Linked DNA regions of Homo sapiens. The protein of the gene in region 1 interacts with the protein of each later gene in a pairwise test. Each region holds a gene or a part of one and is shown in the gene's direction. Other genes may lie near its edges. The genes, in order: KCTD15, REN, NBPF19 and ENSA.

The links.
Region 2: the proteins of KCTD15 (region 1) and REN interact in a two-hybrid assay, tested with the Homo sapiens proteins (one large-scale study listed by BioGRID and IntAct).
Region 3: the proteins of KCTD15 (region 1) and NBPF19 interact in a two-hybrid assay, tested with the Homo sapiens proteins (one large-scale study listed by BioGRID).
Region 4: the proteins of KCTD15 (region 1) and ENSA interact in a two-hybrid assay, tested with the Homo sapiens proteins (one large-scale study listed by IntAct).

Annotation. Positions count from the first base shown.
Region 1 is NC_000019.10:33,798,819-33,804,609, forward strand, and holds part of KCTD15 (BTB/POZ domain-containing protein KCTD15), read left to right. Parts: intron 1-775; coding exon of another isoform or gene 776-804; exon of another isoform or gene 805-900; intron 901-1,609; 5' UTR 1,610-1,636; coding exon 1,637-1,702; intron 1,703-2,348; coding exon 2,349-2,524; intron 2,525-5,791. UniProt on the Homo sapiens protein: During embryonic development, it is involved in neural crest formation. Inhibits AP2 transcriptional activity by interaction with its activation domain.
Region 2 is NC_000001.11:204,162,577-204,168,881, reverse strand, and holds the start of REN (renin preproprotein), read left to right. Parts: upstream 1-2,544; 5' UTR 2,545-2,588; coding exon 2,589-2,686; intron 2,687-6,305. UniProt on the Homo sapiens protein: Renin is a highly specific endopeptidase, whose only known function is to generate angiotensin I from angiotensinogen in the plasma, initiating a cascade of reactions that produce an elevation of blood pressure and increased sodium retention by the kidney.
Region 3 is NC_000001.11:149,501,705-149,507,495, forward strand, and holds part of NBPF19 (NBPF family member NBPF19), read left to right. Parts: intron 1-581; coding exon 582-754; intron 755-1,473; coding exon 1,474-1,525; intron 1,526-2,129; coding exon 2,130-2,302; intron 2,303-3,011; coding exon 3,012-3,063; intron 3,064-3,713; coding exon 3,714-3,886; intron 3,887-4,600; coding exon 4,601-4,709; intron 4,710-5,342; coding exon 5,343-5,515; intron 5,516-5,791.
Region 4 is NC_000001.11:150,620,690-150,625,474, reverse strand, and holds the end of ENSA (alpha-endosulfine), read left to right. Parts: exon of another isoform or gene 1-2,197; intron 2,198-2,615; coding exon 2,616-2,631; 3' UTR 2,632-3,350; downstream 3,351-4,785. UniProt on the Homo sapiens protein: Protein phosphatase inhibitor that specifically inhibits protein phosphatase 2A (PP2A) during mitosis.

The DNA of each region.
Region 1 (5,791 bases):
GCTAAGAACAGAGTGGAGCGGCTTCTGTGATGGAGGCTTGGTGTTCACGTCACTTTGGAATAGTGTCCTGGTATTGGGGAAAACATCTTGCAGTCCGCTTTGATAGAATTTCAGCCAGAATTCCTTCCTGTTCAGTTTATCCTCAGCGCGTCTTCCCTTCTGACTCCTCCCCCAGCAGAGCCTCCTAGGGCAGGATAATCCATTCCTGAGGTCTGTTTTGGTTCTCAGAACTCCTTGAGCTAAGTGACCTGGTTTTGTTTTTTTAAGCTTGTAGAACTCAGGAATGCCAAAAGCAGTGGATTCTGAGTCCACAGGCCCCAGTGAGGGTATATATTAAACATCACTGTCTGCCCATTGCAACCTCCCACCCCAGTTTTATGTCAGGAAACTTGCCCGGGCACTCAGGGAGAGCAACCTTGCTTACATTTGCAGGATTTGATTCTGGTTGGATTAAAATTGGATATTGAATTTCAAGGCACAAATTTTGATCCCAGAGTTTTAATGGGAAAAAGCAATCCCATGGGTCCCAAGAATTTCAAGTGGTTTCTCTCTTAAAGGTTAAACCTTCGAGAGACGTCCAGGGTAGGTTTGTGGAAGCCAGTGTCTGTGGATGTGTGAAGGGGGGTGACTATTCACGTGCAAATCTCCTCTTTCCTCCCTTTTGAGACAGCTGTAAATCAGTGAACGGGGCTGCAGAATTCTGCCCCTCCTGCATAGGGCCTGCAAAGCGCCCCTGGGTGTGGCTTCCAGGGACTGAGGGACAATCTTATTTCAGGTGACTACGGCACAGAGGAGAGTTACTGAGTGCCTCTGGGGAGGAGCAGTAGAAAGGGTCCATTGGCTGATCTGCTTGCTCTGTGCTTCCTCCTGGCCACCTGGCCATCTCCTGATGCCTCGGGGGTATGTGATCCTGAGGGGTCTGGAATGCATTAGGCATAGACAACACCACTCTGGGAGTCTGGGGAGAAACTGTGAGGTACAGACTAGGCAAACAAAGACAGGTTTTCTCTGCTATTGGGAGCCACAGAGAAGAGGCGGCTTCCCAAGTGACTTGCCCTCATCCATGTGCCTGGACTTCTGCTGAACGGCTTCCCTGTGTCTGGCCAGATGCAAGCTGTATCTTATCACCATGGGGATGGTATTAAGAGAGGTCCTAGGTTCCCTGGCCCATGGAGGGTGAGGGGTGCTTTCTGAGCCTTGGTCCACAAGGCTGTTGCAAGAGGAGACACGCTTGGTAACATGGCTTGAAAGGAAAATACCAGGAAAATCTGGTTTGTTCTGAAATATTTTGGGGCAATAATGGTGAGCATATGTTTCAGTGCTGTCATTAGCCGAATTAGCAGACATGGAGCTGCCCAGAAAACACATGTGTGAGTGTGACTGTGTGTGTGTGCATGTATGTGTGTGTCATCTGCTACAGCCTGGAGGCCTGCTTTGGGGTGTGGAGACAGATAGAGAGATAGTGGCGGTGGAGTCAATCAGGGAGGGCTGCATGGACCTCGCAGGGTCTCAGAGAGCATGCAGAAAGGACAATTCTAAGTGTCTTTGACCCCATGGTACATGACTAGGAGGAATAAGCCTTCTCTGGTTTTGTCGATGCCTCCCGCAGATACTCTGGGCAGGGATGGAAGCCTAGATGCCTCACCGCAAGGAGCGGCCGAGCGGGTCCTCGCTTCACACACACGGCAGCACCGGCACCGCGGTGAGCCTGCAGGGTGGGCTGGGTCCCTGCCGGGAGTTCCCTCTTTCCCTTCTTCCCCAGTGCCTGTTTACTGGCTGTCCTTCCTTGGGACCATGACACTCCAGGTGGCTGTTGACTGGCTGTAGGATTATGTATTTTTGAAACAAAAATGCTCTTAATTTGATGTGAAATTTACTACATGTATAAAACTCAACGCCTTAGGTGCTGAGGAAGTCACTAATTTAGAGGTGTCTCGTTACTGAGACAAACTTGCAAAAAACCCCTGAATCCCAATTCACAAATTGGTGATTCGTTTGTCAGGGGATATTTCACATCTAACACATAAGCCCACGACCTTTAATTAGAATTTTGCAGTTTGTTTTATGCCCCTGGAGGCTGACACCTTGAAAAATTTTTTTTCTTGATTTCTTATTGCTAATAAGCATCTTTCTTTTTCCCTCTGGTACTTTGAAGAAAATGATGCAAATACACTTAATTACAGTGGTGGCCATAATTTGTCAGCTGAATATATGATCAGGCACGGGCAGAAGTGATCTGATTAGATCTGTGATCACACTCTCAATAAAGGGAGTGCATGGCTGTGTTGTGGAGAAACTCTTGTGTTCCGCTTTGAAACTCTTGTGTTCCGCTTTGTTTCCATCTCTAGGAGGGAGGAAACATGTCCCGGCTGTCTCTCACCCGGTCGCCTGTGTCTCCCCTGGCTGCCCAGGGCATCCCCCTGCCAGCCCAGCTCACCAAGTCCAATGCACCTGTGCACATCGATGTGGGCGGCCACATGTACACCAGCAGCCTGGCCACGCTCACCAAGTACCCTGACTCCAGGTAAGAGTAAGCCCCTTGAAACATCAGGCATGTGTGGGTCAGGGCAGCATCTGTAATCTGCTGCCTAGGGGGTGGGGTCTCTCCCCACTGTCACTCCACCCACCAGGGTCTCCAGGGTGCACAAGCTGACACAGCCTGAGGGAGCTAGGGTTGGGGAGTCCAAGTCTGCCTGTTGAAAGCTGCTATGCACAGAGGCTTGTGACCCTGACTTGGCGGCATTGGTAGTGCAAGGTGGAGCTCCTGACCCACCTGCAGGGGACTAGGGCTTATTCAGAGCCAGCCCAGCCTGAGCCTGCCGGCAGCGGGCAGGGGAGTCTCACGTACCTTCAAGGTTCCTCTGGAGGGAGACTTAGGCCCGGCCCCTGCAGGGGGTCATTTGTGAGTGATACTGAGTAGGTAAGTCTTGGGGGCATGGGGGTGGGTATTTAATCCTATTTTCTATTCCACCCCTGGGAAATTCACAAGGGGAGGGAAGAGGAGCTGTGGTGAGCTGCAGTGTGCCATCTTTGTCATTTTCCGTGGCCACTGCTGGGCCCTAGAGGCTAGCAGCAGGCTTCCCTTGGAGCTGGTGCTGCAGTGACTAGCTAGGAATGAATCACATACCTCATCAGTGGATAAAGGGTCTCTGGCCAGGACCCTGGTTGGGGGCTCACAGGCACCCTCCATGCTGCTGAACTTATAGGCTGCCCAGGCCCTTGGGCCTGCGAGAGGTTTGGGGTGCTGGGTGCTGCCAGCTCTCCTGCTCTTCCTTGCAGGGTGTTTCTCTCCTGGGTGAGGGACCTGCTTTCCCCGTTGGCACGGCAGCAGGGCTGACCCGAGTAGGGTGGGTCTTGAGCAGCTTGCTCAGCCGAGGATGTTTGCTCCTGGCACAGAGAGGCGGTCATCGCTCCCCTGGGGCTGCTGAAGGCTGAGCGTGGGAGGGCCAAGGCTGTGGGCATCACCCCTGTGTTATGCATTTGAAATAACAGGAGGAGTTAATTAATCCCCCAGATACTGAGGGATCATCTCTGGGGAGCATACACGGCAGGCTGCATTGTCACCGGTGTGGTTCCTCAGAGCAGGGAGGATGGTAGTGCGCAGAGGTGGCTTTCCAAGCCTGTTGGGGCTGCAGGGGAGCCTGTGCAGGTGCAGGCATGGTCCCTTGAGGAGGAAAAACTGGAAATGGGTGCAGTGTCTAGTTCCAAATTTGGAGAGTCTAGGGTACAGATGGTGACTGGTGTTCCAGTACCCCAGGTGGACAGAGACTCAGCCTGGGGCCCTGTGGCCTTGGGGCTTGTGGGGTGGGGACAAGAGCCACGGGGCCAGGTCAGCAGTGTTGGCCTGTGTGCTCACTCACAGAGCCCTGTCTAGGATGGGAGATAGATTCTGCTTATTTAATTTCCATTTTGCCTTCTGCGGCATTTCTGAGTTGTTTGAGATAGATCATCCCTTAATCGGTTGACGACGTTTGTGAGTGAAATTCATAAAACCTTTGCCCACAACCCTCTCTGAAGAGTTTCCTGAAATCAGAGAGTTGCCTGTCTGGAGTAATCACAGCCCAGGCCCTGGGGGAGGCGGGTGGGAGAGGCTTCTCATTCTGGGCTCTTGGCTGCTGCCTGAGAGCAGGAGGGCAGGGGGCCATCTCCCCCCACCCAGCCCCACTGTGCTGCTCACCCATTGCTTTGTTCTGCTGTGGGATGTGCTCTCATGGGGAGCTAGGGCCCCTGTGGCCCTGTGATCTGGCACTTGGGACCCTCCTGGTGTGCCCAAGGGGTGGCAGTCTATGTTTATTCTTCCCCAGGGCTGGGGCTCAAGGTGAATCTGTTGTTCTGCCTGGATGGCCTCTGGCTGCTGTGGGGGTGCTCTGTAGGCCTGAAGCTTTGGACTAGAGGCCAGGGATGGCTGACCTGCAGGACAATCAGGGGACAGGAGGCCAGGGGGCCTGAGAAGTGGGTCAGGCAGCTGTGCTGGCAAGAGCCCCTCAGATCTCTCTTGTCCTTCCTGTAGTGGATTATTATAATATAAGCAGTTTTCTACCAATTCTGGAAAAAATCAATCTCACCTAGTGTCACTGATCTAGGAGACACCTGGAGATGGAGGACTAAGAGTGCTGTGGTCCTCAGGGGGTTTCTGGATGGTGAAGATGACCTGCCCTAGGCAGCATTGTAAAAGCTGGGACCTCTACCCTCGGCTCCCCTGAGAACTCTGCCTGAGCCTCTGGGTCTCGGCGGTTGGGGTGGCCTGGGTGCTGGAGAGTCTCGTGCTGGGTGACTCCTCTGGTCTGCCTAGGAGCAGTCACTGGTCCTCACCCGAGACAGCCAAGCACAGCCGGGGCTGGGAGTGGATTCCCTGGGCCGGCCCCCTTGCTGGTGTCCTGCCTGCTTGACCCCCGTTAGCTGCCGCCATCACAGCCACACTCTGACATCCATCCTGACTATGGGAAGCATCAAATGAAGATGGCCAGGAGCTTCAGAACTCTTAAAACCTGGTGCCTGAAACAGCCAGGAAATTGGAGCCAGAGCTTAAAAAAAAAAAGGAAATAAACGAGAAGACGAAGGCCATCCTGATGCTCCCCCTTGTGCACACAGGGCAGGTGGTTGGAGGCATCTTTTCTGCCCCTGAGGGTCCCACCTGCTGCAGCGTGAACTGGCCACCTCATTCCATGGAGGACTTCGGAAGCCGGCCCCTCAAACCCTGCATCCTCTCTCAGAGGGTGGCCTGGGCCATTTTCCACAGGGAACGTGGAGCCCCTGACAGAGCTGGGAACTCATACCTGCAGGGCTGAGAATGGCTGAGGGCTCCTCCATGGTGATTATCCTCACCTTTCCTCAACCTGCTCACGTCCTTGGCAGCCTCAGACGCTGAGGGCATGAAAGGCCTCTGTCCTGGGAGAGGCGGTACAGCTGCCGCTTGATCCAGGAGCCTATACTGAACCATGGAAAGATCTAGAATCAGCCTGTCCTGAAATAAGGCAGATGGAAAACCTTCTAAACTTGGACCGATGAGACAACCTAGAACCCATCCAGCCCTGGAATGTGGGTGCATCAGGAGTCTTCTAGACCAACAGGACCAGCTAGAGCCTCAGCCAGACCTGACGTCAGAAGGGTTGGGAACTCAGCCAGGCCTAGAATGCTGCCTGCTTACATGGACTTTGGAGCTCCACTGGGAAGGGTGGGGAGAGTTCCCAGGAGGCTGAGGGTTTGGATCTGCTGACTCACCTTGGATGTAGCTCTTACTTCCCACCGGTGCCACACATGGACCTCAGCCACCTGCCAACCACTGCCCATG
Region 2 (6,305 bases), on another chromosome or scaffold:
TGTGCCCACCTCTTCCATGAGCGTCCTTGGGCCCAGAGGGATTTAATAGTTTTTTAAATCCTGGAGATATTAGGTACAGAGAGAAAGGTAAACCCAATTTCTATAAGCTATAAATAGCTCAAAAAGAAAAAAGGCGGGCCAGGCGCAGTGGCTCACGCCTGTAATCCCAGCACTTTGGGAGGCTGAGGCAGGCAGATCATGAGGTCAGGAGATCAAGACCATCTTTGCTAACATGGTGGAATCCCGTCTCTACTAAAAATACAAAAAATTAGCTGGGCGTGGTGGCACGTGCCTGTAGTCCCAGCTACTTGGGAGGCTGAGACAGGAGAATGGTGTGAACCCAGGAGGTGGAGCTTGCAGTGAGCCGAGATTGCGCCGCTGCACTCCAGCCTGGGTGACAGAGCAAGACTCCGTCTCAGAAAAAAAAAAAAGGCTTTCTTGACTCTGGAAAACAAAACATAAAGAATTAGCAACATTTCAAACTTAATTTAGGATTAGATTTTGAGGACATTTGTCAAAATGTTAAAGCCTCAAACCATTTGATCAAAACAGAACCGCCGGTCTTTGTAAAATAATAATTATTCATTTCACAAAAGTGATAATTAAAAGACTTTAATAGCAATACAGAAAGTTACATGAATATAAAGACTTAACCTTTCTAAAGCTCAGTTTTCCTAAGTAATCAAAAACCTGATAAAGATAACAAGAATGAGGAATTATCTTGAGAAAATGTAAAATCTTTCCTTTTATTTTTTGAGACAGGGTCTCACTCTGTCATCCAGGCTAAAGTGCAGTGGCACAATCATAGCTCACTACAGCCTTGAACTCCTGGACTCAAGTGATCCTCCCGCCTCAGCCTCCCCAGTAGCTAAGACTACAGGCACGCACCACCACACCCAGCTAATTTTTTTCAGAGATGGGGTCTTGCTATATTGCCCTGGCTGGTCTTGAACGAGCTTCAAGTGAGCGTGAGCCTCCTACCTCATCCTCCCAAAGCACTAGGATTACAGGCATGAGCCACTGTTTCCCAGCCTAAAATAATTGTTTCTTAGGCCAGCTACCAAAAACGCAAAGAAAAACTTTCTGTAGTGTGATTGCTTCTTCTTATGGGAAGCCCATTTAGATAACCTGTAAGTCAAACCTGATGAAAACAATACTTGAATGTAATCAGACACAGAAAGACTGTTCAAGGCTATGAGTAGCTGAGTCCAAGCTCGTATCACTTGCCACACAACAGCCAATAAGTCTAGAGACAAGGTATTGTGGCAAGGAAAGCTACCTTATTCAGAGAACCAGAAAACCAAGAAGATGGTGGACCAGCATCATAAAGAACCATCTGAAGTCAGCATGAACGTTAGGCTCTTCTTTATGTTAAGGGAAGGGGAAGAAGAAGGGGATTGGGATCAAGAGGTGACTGATGACCACAGACACCTGGGTGCCAGCAAGGGTCTGAGGACGTTGTAAAACTTCTTTTTTCTAGGTCAGGTCACAATGTTCCTATACATCTTTAACATAACATTGTTATTTGTCTGTATATTTCCTTATCTCCTTGGGGGTTAGTTTGGGGAAAGGAACTGTTACCATTTTTTTTAAAGTTGAACTGCAAGCTAAACTCCTATAATTAGCTGGTCTATGTACAGAGCTAAGCAGAAGCTTTTAGCCTAAAGGATAATACCCCTGGGGGTCAGAGGCAAAATGGAGTCAGTCATGCTAAGTCTCCCTCCACTCTCTTTCTTTTTTGAGATGGAATTTCACTCTTATTGCCCAGGCCGGAGTGCAGTGGCATGATCTCAGCTCACTGCAACCTCCGCCTCCTGGGTTCAAGCAATTCTCTTGCCTCAGCCTCCTGAGTAGCTGAGATTACAGGTGTCCATCACCACACCCAGCTAATTTTTGTAGTTTAGTGGAGATGGGGTTTCACCATTGTTGGTCAGGCTGGTCTGGAACTCCTGACCTCAGGTGATCTACCCACCTTGGCCTCCCAAAGTGCTGGGACAGGTGTGAGCCACCATGCCTGGCCCCTCTACTCTTATAATTAAACCAGCTGTTGCTTTTCCTGCCAAGAAACCAGTCATGAAGATTCACCCATGTTCTAGATGGGAAAACTGGGCTGTAGCCTGGGAGAGGCCAGTCAGGGACAAAGCCAAAGTTAATATAGAGAATGGAGCTTCCAGGGTATAGGGGTTGGGTCTGGGCTAGGGAGCTGGAAACCTAGGTTTTACGCTTGTCCCAGTTTTGATGTTAGCCCTGAGCAGTGCTGTTTCTCATCAGCCTCTGCCTGCTCCAGGGGTCACAGGGCCAAGCCAGATAGAGGGCTGCTAGCGTCACTGGACACAAGATTGCTTTCCCACAGCTGTCCTTCCTCCAGCCCCTCTGCTCCCCATCCGGAAACCTGGGTACCCTTCACCCACCTAGCTCTGTCCCGCAGTGAGATTTATTGCTGACTGCCCTGCCATCTACCCCAGGGTAATAAATCAGGGCAGAGCAGAATTGCAATCACCCCATGCATGGAGTGTATAAAAGGGGAAGGGCTAAGGGAGCCACAGAACCTCAGTGGATCTCAGAGAGAGCCCCAGACTGAGGGAAGCATGGATGGATGGAGAAGGATGCCTCGCTGGGGACTGCTGCTGCTGCTCTGGGGCTCCTGTACCTTTGGTCTCCCGACAGACACCACCACCTTTAAACGGTAATTGGTAACTCAGGCAGAGAAGGGGTGGGAGGGGTGCAGGGTTCCCACCTTCCCAACACCCTGGCTTTTCCACATGCGGTGTCATTCAGTCCTTACGATCAGCTGGACAGGGAAGTATGGACCTGTTCAGAGAGGTCAAGTGACTTGCCCAATAAATGACACTAGTAGTCAGGTCTAGAAGCTGTGACTTTTGCTTCCTGCCCAGAGCACCATGCTAACTAAGCACTGTAGAGAACTCAGAAGTATTAGGACATGCCCCTTGCACTTGAGGAGCTCACAGCCTGAATATTAAGAAGGGCATGGGTGGTTGGGCGCGGTGGCTCCTGCCTGTAATCCCAGCACTTTGGGAGGCTGAGACGGATCACTTGAGGTCAGGAGTTTGAGACCAGCCTGGCCAACATGGGGAAACCCCATCTCTACTAAAAATACAAAAATTAGCCGGGCATGGTGGCAGGCACTTGTAATCCCCAGCTACTCGGGAAGCTGAGGCAGGAGAATCGTTTGAGCCCGGAAGGTGGAGATTGCTGAGCCAAGATCGTGCCACTGCACTCCAGCCTGAGTGACAGAACAAGACTCCATCTCAAAAAAAAAAAAGACGGGGGTCGGGGCATGGGTACAGTTAACTGTACCAGGGAAGCAGCTTGATATCGTGGTTAAATGCAAGGCTTATAGAGTTAGATTGCCTTCATTTAAATTTTGCTTCACTAGCAGAACAAACTAGGTCTGGAATCATGGGCAAGTTATTTAACCTCTCCAAGTCTCAGTTTATCATTTTAAACAGGTATGATAATAACAGTACCTACTTGATGGGGCTGCTTTGGGGATTTTAGGAGATAAGGCATAGAAAGCTGGGCACGTTGTAAGAGCCCAGCTACTGTTAGTACTACAGGATAGATTCTTACAAATATCAAAAGCAAGGTTTGGCCGGGAGCAGTGGCTCACGCCTATAATCCCAACACTTTGGGAGGCCGAGGGGGGCAGATCACCCGAGGTCAGGAGTTCAAGACCAGCCTGACCAACATGGAGAAACCCTGTCTCTACTAAAAATACAAAATTAGCCGGGCGTGGTGGCACATGCCTGTAATTCCAGCTACTTGGGAGGCTGAGGCAGGAGAATCGCTTGAACCTGGGAGGCTGAGGTTGCAGTGAGCCGACATAGCGCCATTGCACTCCAGCCTGGTCAACAAGAGCAAAACTCAGTCTAAAAAAAAAAAAGAAAGAAAAAAACAAGGCTTTAGGTAGCCCACAATTAGAAGGAGAAAACCTTAGCATCCCCTAGGTGCCAGGCCTTGTGGGAACAAGTGATTCATTAAGACTGTAGAAGGAAGCTGGGCACGCGGCTCATGCTTGTAATTCCAGCACTTTGAGAGGCTGAGGTGGGCAGATCGCTTGAGCTCACGAGTTCAAGACCAGCCTAGGCAACATGGTGAAACCTTGTCTGTACAAATACAAAAATTAGCTAGGTGTGGTGGTGCAAATCTGTAGTCCCAGCTACTCGGGAGGCTGAGGTGGGAGCATCACTTCAGCCTGGGAGGTGGAGGCTGCAGTGAGCAGAGACTGACCCACTGTGCTCTAGCCTGGGTGATAGAGCCAGACCTTATGTAAAAAAAAAAAAAAAAAAAAAAAAGACTGAAGAAGGGGAAGAGACAGCATTTGAGAAAAGGCCTCACAGAGAAAGGGGTTTTCAATCTGGGGACAGCAGATATGACCAGCAGTCCTGAAGGTAGGGAGGCACACTTTAATAATGGTAATAGTTGCTAAGCCTATAAAATGCTTAGGGTGTCACAGGATCTTTTCACATGTCTCATCTCAAGTCATGCCCCCAACAACTCAGCATTCCCACTTTGCAGATGAGGACACTGAGGCTCAGGGAGGTGATATGTAAGAGGCTAAGCCTCAACACACACTGGGCCTTTTGCTTCCGAAACTGCTTTCCCTTGCTCTGAGGCTCTCGGAGAGTAATTGCTGGGTTGTGAGCACTGGGTAAGAGGATGGGTGCTTCAAAGCAGCTGCACTCCAGGATAAAGGTAGAGGAAAGTAAAAACATCTTCCCCTGCTGTTATCCAAAAGAGAAAAAGAATGGAATTGGGCAAGGGGTGGAGGGGGAATCCAGCTTTTGAAACAGTATTATAGGAATTTTGCTACCCGCTATGTGCAGAGCATCATGCGAGGCACTTGGGACAGCTGAATGAATGAGCTCCATTCTCAAGGTGAACATGTACATATACACACCTACAATTTACATTTATTGAGCAGTGGTCGCATGGTTTCATCTGCACAGTGACTCTGAGGTAGGTACTACCATTAGGCCCATTGTTAGAGAGGGGTTAATGGAGACTTAGAAGAGGCCCAGAGAGGTTAGGTAGCTTTCTCAGAATCACATAAGTGGTAAGGGGATTCAGGCATGCCCCCTGCAACCACTGTCTTCACCACCGTACGGCACCAGTTCCACAAGCTGTACAGTGTGGGCTGTGAGACCCAAGGAAAAACAGAGCTGAGGCCCACGGGAAGGTGAGGCCGGTGTGGGCTGGAGGCCTTGGGGTAAGCTTCCTGGAGGTGGGGGTACATGTTGGGCCTTGGAGGACTAAAGAACTGGGGGGAAAAGGAAGGGAAGAAGGAAAGGATTTTCTGAAAAGGAAATGGCAAGAAGTAAAGGTCCAAAGCATAGGCTGTTGTGAGTAAACAGTGGGAAATGCAACCTCTTTGGGGCCAAACCTCTGACCCTCCACGTTCCCAGCTGTGAAGTGGGAGTAATAAAATCATCCACCTTATGAGAGCAAATAAAATAATGATTGTGAAAATATTTTGGTAACAGTAACCTGTGATAGGAAGATAACAAATCATTTCTGTTACAATACCATGCTGATAGGCATAAAAGTTGCATTCATGTTCATGGGCAAAATGGGGGTAAGTAGAATGCATGGGACGCAAGAAGGATGTAGGAAGGAAAGGGTAGTGTGAGTATAGGAGGACTAGCCACTGAGAAGAAAGTAGAAGAAAGAGGGAATCTTTGTGTGTATGGGAAAGTCTATTGCAGAGTCAACTTGGGCTTCCATCCTGGGACCTTCCCGTGAACAGCTAGAGACATCTTCCTCTGGGCTTTGGCAGCCTTTATGTCGGGACCCAGGGGACCCTATATGGGAAATAGGGCCAGACACATGCTCTGAATCCCTGCTTCAACATTTCTGAGTCACCTTTGTCCCTGTGAGCCTTCATTTTTCTCATCTATAAAATGGATGACAGCTAGCTTGTTGGTGTGATTTCAGTAGCGGCTCAGTAGAGTCAGTTTCCTAGGTCTCTTTAATTCTGCCTCTCAAAGGTGATGGGAAAACATCTAGACAAGAAGCCAAGGGACCGGGACACATCTCTCCAAGGACGAGGTGCATGGCGCTCTGAAGATGCTGGCATCTCTCTAGGCCCAACCCAGCTCAGGGGGTCCACTCCACCACAGCCCTGGCTGGGTGCCTGTCCCCTGGTATCCTGGAGACCTTGCAGCTGCTGTGGGCATCTGCTGCCACCTAGCGGCCTCCCATGGCACTGTCTCCCCGCCAGCCCCTAGTTTTGACAGGGGCACTCCCTGGCATTAATCTCTTCAGAGGGAATGTCTGTGCCTGTT
Region 3 (5,791 bases), on another chromosome or scaffold:
CAGATTCAGGGAAACCAGAGTGTGTTTGATGTCATGTTTTCAACGAAGGCTGAATTACTCCTACTGTCATTGCTGTTGGTTTTCATTGCAGTAGATGTTTAGGTTTCCATTTCTTCCTCCCCTTATCATTTCCTAACGTACCATAGGTTGACCATACTTCAAAAGCTGTACTCTCATGGCCACTGCATCGAATTTTGAGCATATTTTATGGAAAACTATTGAGCTCACTCTTTTCATGATCACAGTTTGCTGTGTGTCATGAGGGCACTAACTCAGAGTGTCCTTTTACTCCCTTACCAGTATGTCACCTGGCCAATTCACTAGGTCACTTTCTCTCTGTCTCTGTCTCTGTCTCTCTCTCTGTCTCTGTCTCTCTCTCTCTCTCTCTCTGTCTTTCTCTTTCATTGTTTTCTACCTGGCCCTGTTCTATCCCAACATAAAGGCAATAATTTGTTACCTCATTAATGGATCTGTCCTTTTTCTTTTCAAACTCTTCCTTAACGTTAGCCATGAAATCTAGCTGGGGCTGTGCGGTTTCTGATTCCCCCTGGCTTATTCTTTACTTTTTCCCACTTTTCCAGGCTCAGCAGGGAGCTGCTGGATGAGAAAGGGCCTGAAGTCTTGCAGGACTCACTGGATAGATGTTATTCAACTCCTTCAGGTTGTCTTGAACTGACTGACTCATGCCAGCCCTACAGAAGTGCCTTTTACATATTGGAGCAACAGTGTGTTGGCTTGGCTGTTGACATGGATGGTGAGTACCTTTCTATGAAGGTGATAAGGATCCACTGAGTCTTCTGGTTAGGGTCATATTCCTACTGCAAGTGGCCCTTACTGAGCTGAGAGATGTCATTGCCACAGGGAGGACCTATAGGCACATGTAGGTTGAATGAAACTCTAGTTCCACTTGGCAGCCCAGACAAGGGATGGGTCAGTGAGCAAGGCTCTCTTCCTAGTCTCAGGCCATGCCTGTGGCGCCCTAATCCTACTCTCATGACACTGGACCTGGGCAGATGTGACAAATTCACGCAACTCTGATTTTGTCTCAATTTTGTAGATCTTGTAGATTTCATCCTTCACTCTAATTTCAGCGTCTAAAATCCTCGCTACCATGAACAATCTGAGTATTTGATGAGACAGGGCTGAATAGTGCAGTTTTTCTCCTAGCAACCATTTGGGGGTATTTGCTTTAAATCGATTGGAAAAATATGGCATAACCATTTGCACAAACTTGGGACAAATGATATTGGGATAACGATCTACCAGAATAGGGAATTTTACCCACAGTTTCTGGGACAAAAACCAAGGAATCTCTATGGTGATCAGCCTTCAGGCCTCCTGAAGAATATCTCTCACAGTGTCCTATTCTCATGCTGAGGAGCCTGAAGTCTCTGTGTGAGGATTAGACAGTGGATTGTTATGTGTGTAGGAGAACCAGCTTCATATATCTGTCCATGTCTGAACTTATTGCAGAAATTGAAAAGTACCAAGAAGTGGAAGAAGACCAAGACCCATCATGCCCCAGGTAACTTTGAGCAATTATGGATGCTTAATTCTGTGTTGACACCTGGAGATGCCAGGTCCAGGGAAAACAAGAGTGTGTTCAATTTCATGTTTTCAACGAAGGTTGAATTACTCCTACTGACATGGCTGTTGGTTTTCATTGCAGTAGATGTTTAGGTTTCCATTTCTTCCTCCCCTTATCATTTACTAACTTACTATAGGTTGACCATACCTCAAAGGCTGTATGGCAACTGCATGGAATCTTGAGCAAGTTTATGGAAAATTATTGAGCCCACTCTTTTCATGATCACTGTTCGCTGTGTGTCCCGAGGGCACTAACTCAGAGTGTCCTTTGACCCCTTCATCAGTGTGTCACCCGGCCAACTCGCTGAGCTCACTTTCTCCTCTCTCTCTCTCTCTCTCTCTCCCTCTCCCTGTCTTTCTCTTTCATTCTTCTCTACCTGGCCCTGGTCTATCCCAACATAAAGGCAATAATTCATTACCTCATTAATGGATCTGTCCTTTTTCTTTTTAAACAGTTCCTTATGTTAGCCATGAAATCTAGCTGGGGCTGTGTGGTTTCTGATTCCCCCTGGCTTATTCTTTACTTTTTCCTACTTTTCCAGGCTCAGCAGGGAGCTGCTGGATGAGAAAGAGCCTGAAGTCTTGCAGGACTCACTGGATAGATGTTATTCGATTCCTTCAGGTTATCTTGAACTGCCTGACTTAGGCCAGCCCTACAGCAGTGCTGTTTACTCATTGGAGGAACAGTACCTTGGCTTGGCTCTTGACGTGGACAGTGAGTACCTTACTATGAAGGTGATAAGCCTCCACCTGGTCTTCCAGATAGGGGTGATATTCCTGTTCCAAGTGGCCCTTACTGACCCGAGAGATGTCATTGCCGCAGGCAGGACCTGTGGGCGCATATAGGTTGTAATGAAACTGTAGTCTCAGTTGGAAGCCTAGACATGAAATGGGTCAGTGAGCAAGGCTCTATTCCTAGTCTCCAGCCATGCCTGTGGCAACCTGAGCCCGCTCTCAGCACATTGGACCCAGGCAGATGCAAAAAATTCACAGAACTATGATTTGGACTCAAGGGTTTGTAGATTTCCTCCTTCATTCTAATTTCAGTGTCTAAAATTCTTGCATCCATGAACGAGCTGGGCATTTGATGAGACAGGGCTGAATACTGCAGTTTTCCTCCTAGAAATCATCTGGGGCATTTTCTTTGAACTGATGGGAACAATAAGGCATAACTGTTTGCACAAACTTGGGATAAGTGATTTTGGGATAACGATCTACCAGAATGGGGATATTTCACCCTTGGTTCTGAGATGCAAACCAAAGAATATCATGACCAGCTTTCAGGCCTCCTGAAGTATATCTCTCACATTGTCCTGTTCTCATGCTGAGGAGCCTGAGATCCCTGTGTGGGGATTAGACAGTGGACTGTTATGGGTGTAGGTGAATTGGCTTATTTTGTCTGTCCCTGTCTGAATGTATTGCAGGAATTAAAAAGGACCAAGAAGAGGAAGAAGACCAAGACCCACCATGCCCCAGGTAACTGAGCAATTGTGAACAGCTACTTCTGTGTTGACATCTGGAGACTCCTGGTTCAGGGAAAACAGAGCGGGCTGACATTATCGATTACATCTTTTCAAGCAAGCCTGAATTATTCCTACTAACATTGCTGTTGGTTTTCATTGCAGTAGATATTTAGGTTTCCATTTCTTCCTCCCCTTATCATTTACTAACCTACTGTAGGTGGACCAGACTTCAAAAACTGTATTCTCATGGCGACTGCATGGAAACTTGAGCACATTTTATGGAAAATTATTGAGCACAGTCTTTTCATGATCACTGTATGCTGTGTGTCCTGAGGGCACTAACTCAGAGTGTCCTGTTACTCCCTCATCAGTGTGTCACCTGGACAATTCACTGAGCTCGTTCTCTCTCTCTCTCTCTGTGTGTGTGTGTGTGTGTGTGTGCGTGTGTGTGTGTGTGTGTGTGTGTCCATCTGTCTTTCTCTTTCATTCTTTTCCATTTGGCCCTGTTCTGTCCCAACATGAAGGCAATAATTTGTTACCTCATTAATGGATCTATCCTTTTACTTTCTTAACCACTTCCCTATGCTACCCATGAAACCTAGTTGGGGCTCTGTTGTGTGTGATTTCCCCTGGCTTATTCTTTACTTTTTCCTCCTTTTCCAGGCTCAGCAGGGAGCTGGTGGAGGTAGTAGAGCCTGAAGTCTTGCAGGACTCACTGGATAGATGTTATTCAACTCCTTCCAGTTGTCTTGAACAGCCTGACTCCTGCCAGCCCTATGGAAGTTCCTTTTATGCATTGGAGGAAAAACATGTTGGCTTTTCTCTTGACGTGGGAGGTGAGTACCTTTCTATGAAGGTGATAAGCATCCACTGAGTCTTCCATATAAAGATCATATTCCTGCTCCAAGTGGCCATTACTGAGCTGAGAGATGTCGTTGCCGCAGTGAGGACCTATAGGCACATGTAGGTTGAATGAAACTCTAGTTCTACCTGGAAGCCCAGACAAGGGATGGGTCAGTGAGCAAGACTCTCTTCCTAGTCTCAGGCCATACCTGTGGCGCCCTGATCCTATTCTCATGACATTGGACCTGGGCAGATGTGACAAATTCAGAGAACTATGATTTTGACTCAAGGGTTTGTAGATTTCCTTTTTCACTCTAATTTCAGTGTCTAAAGTCCTCACAACCATGAACAATCTGAGTATTTGATGAGACAGGGCTAAATATTGCAGTTTTTCTCCTAGAAATCATTTGAGGGTATTTGCTTTAAATTGATTGGAAAAATATGGCATAACTGTTTGCACAAACTTGGGACAAATGATATTGGGATAACGATCTACTAGAATAGGGACATTTTACCCACAGTTTCTGGGAGAAAAACCGAGGAATTTCTATCATGACCAGCCTTCAGGCCTCCTGAAATATATCTCTCACAGTGTCCTATTCTTATGCTGAGGAGCCTGAGGTCCCTGTGTGAGGATTAGACAGTGGATTGTTATGTGTGTAGGGGAATCAGCTTAATGTGTCTGTCCATGTCTGAATTTATTGCAGAAATTGAAAAGAAGGGGAAGGGGAAGAAAAGAAGGGGAAGAAGATCAAAGAAGGAAAGAAGAAGGGGAAGAAAAGAAGGGGAAGAAGATCAAAACCCACCATGCCCCAGGTGACTTTCAGCAATTGTGGATGCTTAATTCTGTGTTAACACCTGGAGGCAACAGATTCAGGGAAACCAGAGTGTGTTTGATGTCATGTTTTCAACGAAGGCTGAATTACTCCTACTGTCATTGCTGTTGGTTTTCATTGCAGTAGATGTTTAGGTTTCCATTTCTTCCTCCCCTTATCATTTCCTAACGTACCATAGGTTGACCATACTTCAAAAGCTGTACTCTCATGGCCACTGCATCGAATTTTGAGCATATTTTATGGAAAACTATTGAGCTCACTCTTTTCATGATCACAGTTTGCTGTGTGTCATGAGGGCACTAACTCAGAGTGTCCTTTTACTCCCTTACCAGTATGTCACCTGGCCAATTCACTAGGTCACTTTCTCTCTGTCTCTGTCTCTGTCTCTCTCTCTGTCTCTGTCTCTCTCTCTCTCTCTCTCTGTCTTTCTCTTTCATTGTTTTCTACCTGGCCCTGTTCTATCCCAACATAAAGGCAATAATTTGTTACCTCATTAATGGATCTGTCCTTTTTCTTTTCAAACTCTTCCTTAACGTTAGCCATGAAATCTAGCTGGGGCTGTGCGGTTTCTGATTCCCCCTGGCTTATTCTTTACTTTTTCCCACTTTTCCAGGCTCAGCAGGGAGCTGCTGGATGAGAAAGGGCCTGAAGTCTTGCAGGACTCACTGGATAGATGTTATTCAACTCCTTCAGGTTGTCTTGAACTGACTGACTCATGCCAGCCCTACAGAAGTGCCTTTTACATATTGGAGCAACAGTGTGTTGGCTTGGCTGTTGACATGGATGGTGAGTACCTTTCTATGAAGGTGATAAGGATCCACTGAGTCTTCTGGTTAGGGTCATATTCCTACTGCAAGTGGCCCTTACTGAGCTGAGAGATGTCATTGCCACAGGGAGGACCTATAGGCACATGTAGGTTGAATGAAACTCTAGTTCCACTTGGCAGCCCAGACAAGGGATGGGTCAGTGAGCAAGGCTCTCTTCCTAGTCTCAGGCCATGCCTGTGGCGCCCTAATCCTACTCTCATGACACTGGACCTGGGCAGATGTGACAAATTCACGC
Region 4 (4,785 bases), on another chromosome or scaffold:
AAGTTTATTTATTTCGTTAGATTGACACTTCCACACACTCCCTGTAGTCCAGGTAGGGCCCAGAAATAGGAAAGGCTAGGATTGGATAATGCTGCAAATGCTTTTTTTGTGTGAGAAACTGGAGAGATGTGATTTCTCCTTTTGGGAGAGAATGTCCCAAAATTGATTAGGCTGAGCCTTGGGAATAGTTTGGCAGGTTTAACATCCCAAGGCTAACCTAACGTAGTTGGGAAAGGTAGATTGAATGAGACATGTTTTCTGTGCTTCTAAGTGTTCTGTCCCTTAGGCTGCTATTGCTTCATGTTTCCATTATGGCAGGTTTAGAGAATCCTTAAAAAGAAAAATTGACTTGCTTGCCTAAAACTACAGTGCCCCCTTAGCCTCCATTACTTAGTATCTCTTACAGTTTGCTCTGGCTCTCAAATAATATAAAGATTGATGAACATTATTCACAGAAAATGGGCACCTTCTCTCTCTCTTCCAGCATGTTGCTTTTGAAAGTATCATGGGATAGTGGGACGAGCACTGGTTTAGGAGTCAAGATATCTGGGTTCTCACTCTACTCAGTCCCAGCAGAGCTGTTGTATAACCTTGATTAAGTCATTTAGCCTCTCTGGATTTCTATTTCCTCATCTGTAAAATAGAGTTAAATGTATGTAAGATTGATTCTGATTCTGAAGTCTTAACTGCCAGCAGAAAAACTCCATACTGTTCATTGTAAAACTAAAAGTGAGGAAGGCTCGTGGGTGGTGAACCTCTGCTCTGTAATACTGGGAAAGTACTACAGAGGGGAACCATTTGAGGGATACATGAGGAGAGAGTAAATTGAGGTTTGGGGATTATAAATTCAGGCAAGAGAACCTTATAGATATCACAGTCTTGAGGGTCAAAAAAAAATACTTAGGAAGCTAGCCATGGAAGCTTCTTGCCTCTGACCCAGCCCACTTTCCCAGCCTACCTCTGGGCCTTAGCTGCTAAAAAGCTTCTCTGGCAGCGGAGCTGCAGGCCTGAGGAAACATGCTCAGTCATGCACATGTGTTGACCCATGTTTCAGATGCAGTCTGATGCCAGGTATATTGTTAGGGAAAGAGGAAGAAGGGTAAACTGAGCTAGCCCCTGGGGCTGAGTACTCCTGCAGGGCTGGAGGAACAGGTTCTTAGAAGATGATTCACCTTGGAGGAAGCTGGGGAAAGTGGTTAGGGAGGGAGAGGAGGAAGACTGAGAAATCTCTGCATCCCCAGAACTCAGCAACCCAGCTCTTTTATCATGAGGAGAGGTAGCCATGCTGACTCATGAACAGGTGGAGGAAAGGGGTTGCAGGTGACCAGCATCTTCAATCTAGTTACCACCAGCTTGGCTAGAATTTTATTGAACGCAACTTGCTAGTTATGACAGAGAGGACCAGGGTGAGAACTAATGCTCAAGAGAGCAAGATTCTGTAATCCTCTTGCCCTCTCACATCACAAATTCTGATATGCCAAACATTTGGCCCAATGAGAATGACTGATAGACTTGCTGATGTGCATGTGGGGGGATGAGGTGTGTATATGCCTTTCTCCTGACTGGCCATTCAGTGTTCAGGCTGTCATTCAAATTGGATAGGAGAAAGTTGGTGAGGAAGGAATGGAGAGAGCAGGATCCCTGGACTCCCTGGTCCCCAAACTCCTTGACTGTCACTTGTAATTGTATATAATTTTTGTGTTTCTTGCTCCATTTCCTCATGCTGTCATCCTTAAAGTCCATCTGGGAAGGGGAAAATGCTGAACACCATTGTATAGTTTCTTCAACTGTCCCAGCCATGTTGTACATAGATATGTCATGTTATTATATATATAAATATATATATAATTTTGTACGTTTTCTTCATCTCCGATCTTCTCAAATTCTGTACTTTTTTTCTTTTCTGTCTGAGCTGCCTTCTCTATCATTCAGCTTGAGTCCTCAAGACTACTGGTCACAATGAGTCTGATTTTTAGGAAGGAATAGGAGGAGCAGGGAAATCAGAAAAACTGTTGGTCTCACTCTGTCTCTCTACCTGGTCATCTTCAAGGCTAAGAAAACAAACAAGCTACATTCTGTATTTGCCAGTTTCCACAGCATGAAGTACATAGCTTCCTTAGCAAGGAGTGGTCATTCCAAAATCCAAATGCAAATTGCTTTGATTAAACCTAGATTATTAAATCCATTCAGAACAGCATGTGTGTGGTCTGGTTCTGGCCTCCACACAGTCACCACCTCATCTCTGTGCTACCTCAGTCTTTGCAAGTAGCTGTGGCCATGCCTCTGAAACAGCCTGCTCTGAGCCAGGCAGCTTACCCACCTGGAAACCTCCAGTTATTTTGATCTTATCTAAAGAATTATTTTTCTATGTTTGTTATCCATGGATATCCCAGAAAGGCAGATAACGTTGTTTCGTGGATAGGAAAAGACTGAAATTCTATTTTTTGATTTTTTTTGCAACTCCCTTATGGATAGGATTGAGACATGCCAGGTAGCCTAATGGTTGTTAAATGTGGAGGAATCATGGGGTAGAGACTGGGTTGGAGTTCAGGGTTTTTTTCCCCTATTACTTGACAGTGTTGTTTTTTTTTTTTTTCTTCTGTGTTCGTCCGCAGTGGCCAAGTTGAATGATGCTGCCCGGGGCTCTGCCAGATCCTGAGACGCTTCCCCTCCCTGCCCCACCCGGGTCCTGTGCTGGCTCCTGCCCCTTCCTGCTTTTGCAGCCAGGGGTCAGGAGGTGGCTCGGGTGTGGGCTGGAGAGGCAGAAGCCCTTTCCTGTTGGTGTCCCAGCACATGGAGCCCCTTGGGCTGAGCACCAAGACCTTGAACCTTTTTTGTTTTACCTTTTTTCCAAATAACAGTTGGGAGAAATATCAATGAAATTCTGGGGGTGGGGGTGGGGTTGAAAGGGTGGGGTGGGAGATATGGAGGAGTATGAATTAGGGCTTGGAGTTGGTAAAAACATTCCTGACTATCCTTCTTAACCACGTGGCTGATGTGGGGTAGGTATGAGGGGAAGGAAGTGGAGTAGCCTAATGAAAAGGGGTTCTAGTTGAGCTCTGTAGATAAATGCCTTGTTTCAGTGTGGTTGGAGACCTGGTGTCAGATAAAAGAAACTCCATCCGCACAGACAGATGCAAACAGCTCCTCTAGTTCTGCAGAGCTAGTTGAGAACTCAACATTAATCATTTTAAAAAGTACTGTCCTTGAAATAGATTTGCTGTGGGAAGAAGGGCAGTGAGTGTGGGAGAAAGGAGCCGTGAGCGTGGGGAACCCCACAGAGCCCAAAGGACTTTTTCAGTATTCGAAATAAACAAAACAAAAACCCATGAAAAAACCCAACCCAGAAATATTCTGAAGCAGTTGGTGTGTTTTATTGGGGTTTGGGAGGGGGAAGAAAACAATACTGAAGACATTGTTAATGTGAGATGCGGCTGAGTTCCCCAATACCATCACTTAGGAAAGGGAGCAGGAATGTTGGCATAAACCTTGCCCATCCCTTTGTTTCTGTAACCAATGTAGAAGGTGCATCAACCTCAGTTTGTGGCTCACAAAATGAGGCATTTAAGATATTTGATCTAAATGGTTTCTTGACACCTAAGCCTAGTCCAGGTTTAGCAGAAAAGGAGGCCCAGTCTCCTTTTCCCTCTGTCTTCCATTCCTTTTCAAGTTCCCATGTTTGTGAGGGAGAAATGTGACAAACCAAAAGAAATATATTATTTCTTTGTAATAAGCCAAAAGAAACTCAAGTCTTTCTGCTGGTGGCCAGCAGGAGGCAGAGTGATTTCTTTCCTCATGATGTGCCAATCTGCATTGCTGGAAACCTGCTACTGAAAGAAGTTAAAAGCTGCCTGTGAATGTAACGTACAAAAGAAAGGTTACCAAAGGAGAAAAAACTCCAGCGGGTGTACGGTGGCTCACGCCTATAATTCCAGCACTTTGGGAGGCCAAGGTGGGTGGATCACTTGAGGTCAGGAGTTTGAGACCAGCCTAGCCAACATGGTGAAACCCCATCTCTACTAAAAATACAAAAATTAGCCGGGCGTGGCGGCACATGCCTATAATCCCACTTACTTGGGAGGCTGAGGTAGGAGAATCGCTTGAACCCAGGAGGCAGAGTTTGCAGTGAGCCGAGATTGTGCCATTGCACTCCAGCCTGGGCGACAGAGCGAGACTCCATCTAAAAAAAATAAATGAATAAAATAAAACAAGTACAAATTTAAACTAGAGACACAAGTTAATGGTGTTTATTGTGGTGGGGTTAGTGAGCCATCCCATGATTTCCTCCTGAGTATGTTATCCCTGGTTTGTGTTTGCCAGCTGGGGAATGAGGTGAGGTCTATGAGGCTGAATGTGGGATCATTCAATTTCTTTCTTTCTTTCTTTTTTTTTTTTTTTTTAGAGGCAGGATCTTGCTCAGTCACCCAGAATGGAGTGCAGGGTGCAAACACTCACTGTAGCCTCAACCTCCTGGGCTCAAGTAATCTTCCCATCTCAGCCTCCCAAGTAGCTGGGACTACAAGCACACACCACCACACCTGGCTAATTATTTTTTGTAGAGATGAGGATTCACCATGTTGTCCAGGTGAGTCTCAGAACACAGGCTTAAGCACTCTTCCCATCTCAGCCTCCCAAAGTGCTGGGATTACAGGCATAAGCCACTGCGCCTGGCTGAGAATATATTTTCATCCTTTCTTTTGTAGAGAGGATCTCGTTTTGTTGTGTAGGCTGCTCCTGAACTCCTGGCCTCAAGCAGTCTTTCCACCTCAGCCTCCCAAAGTGCAG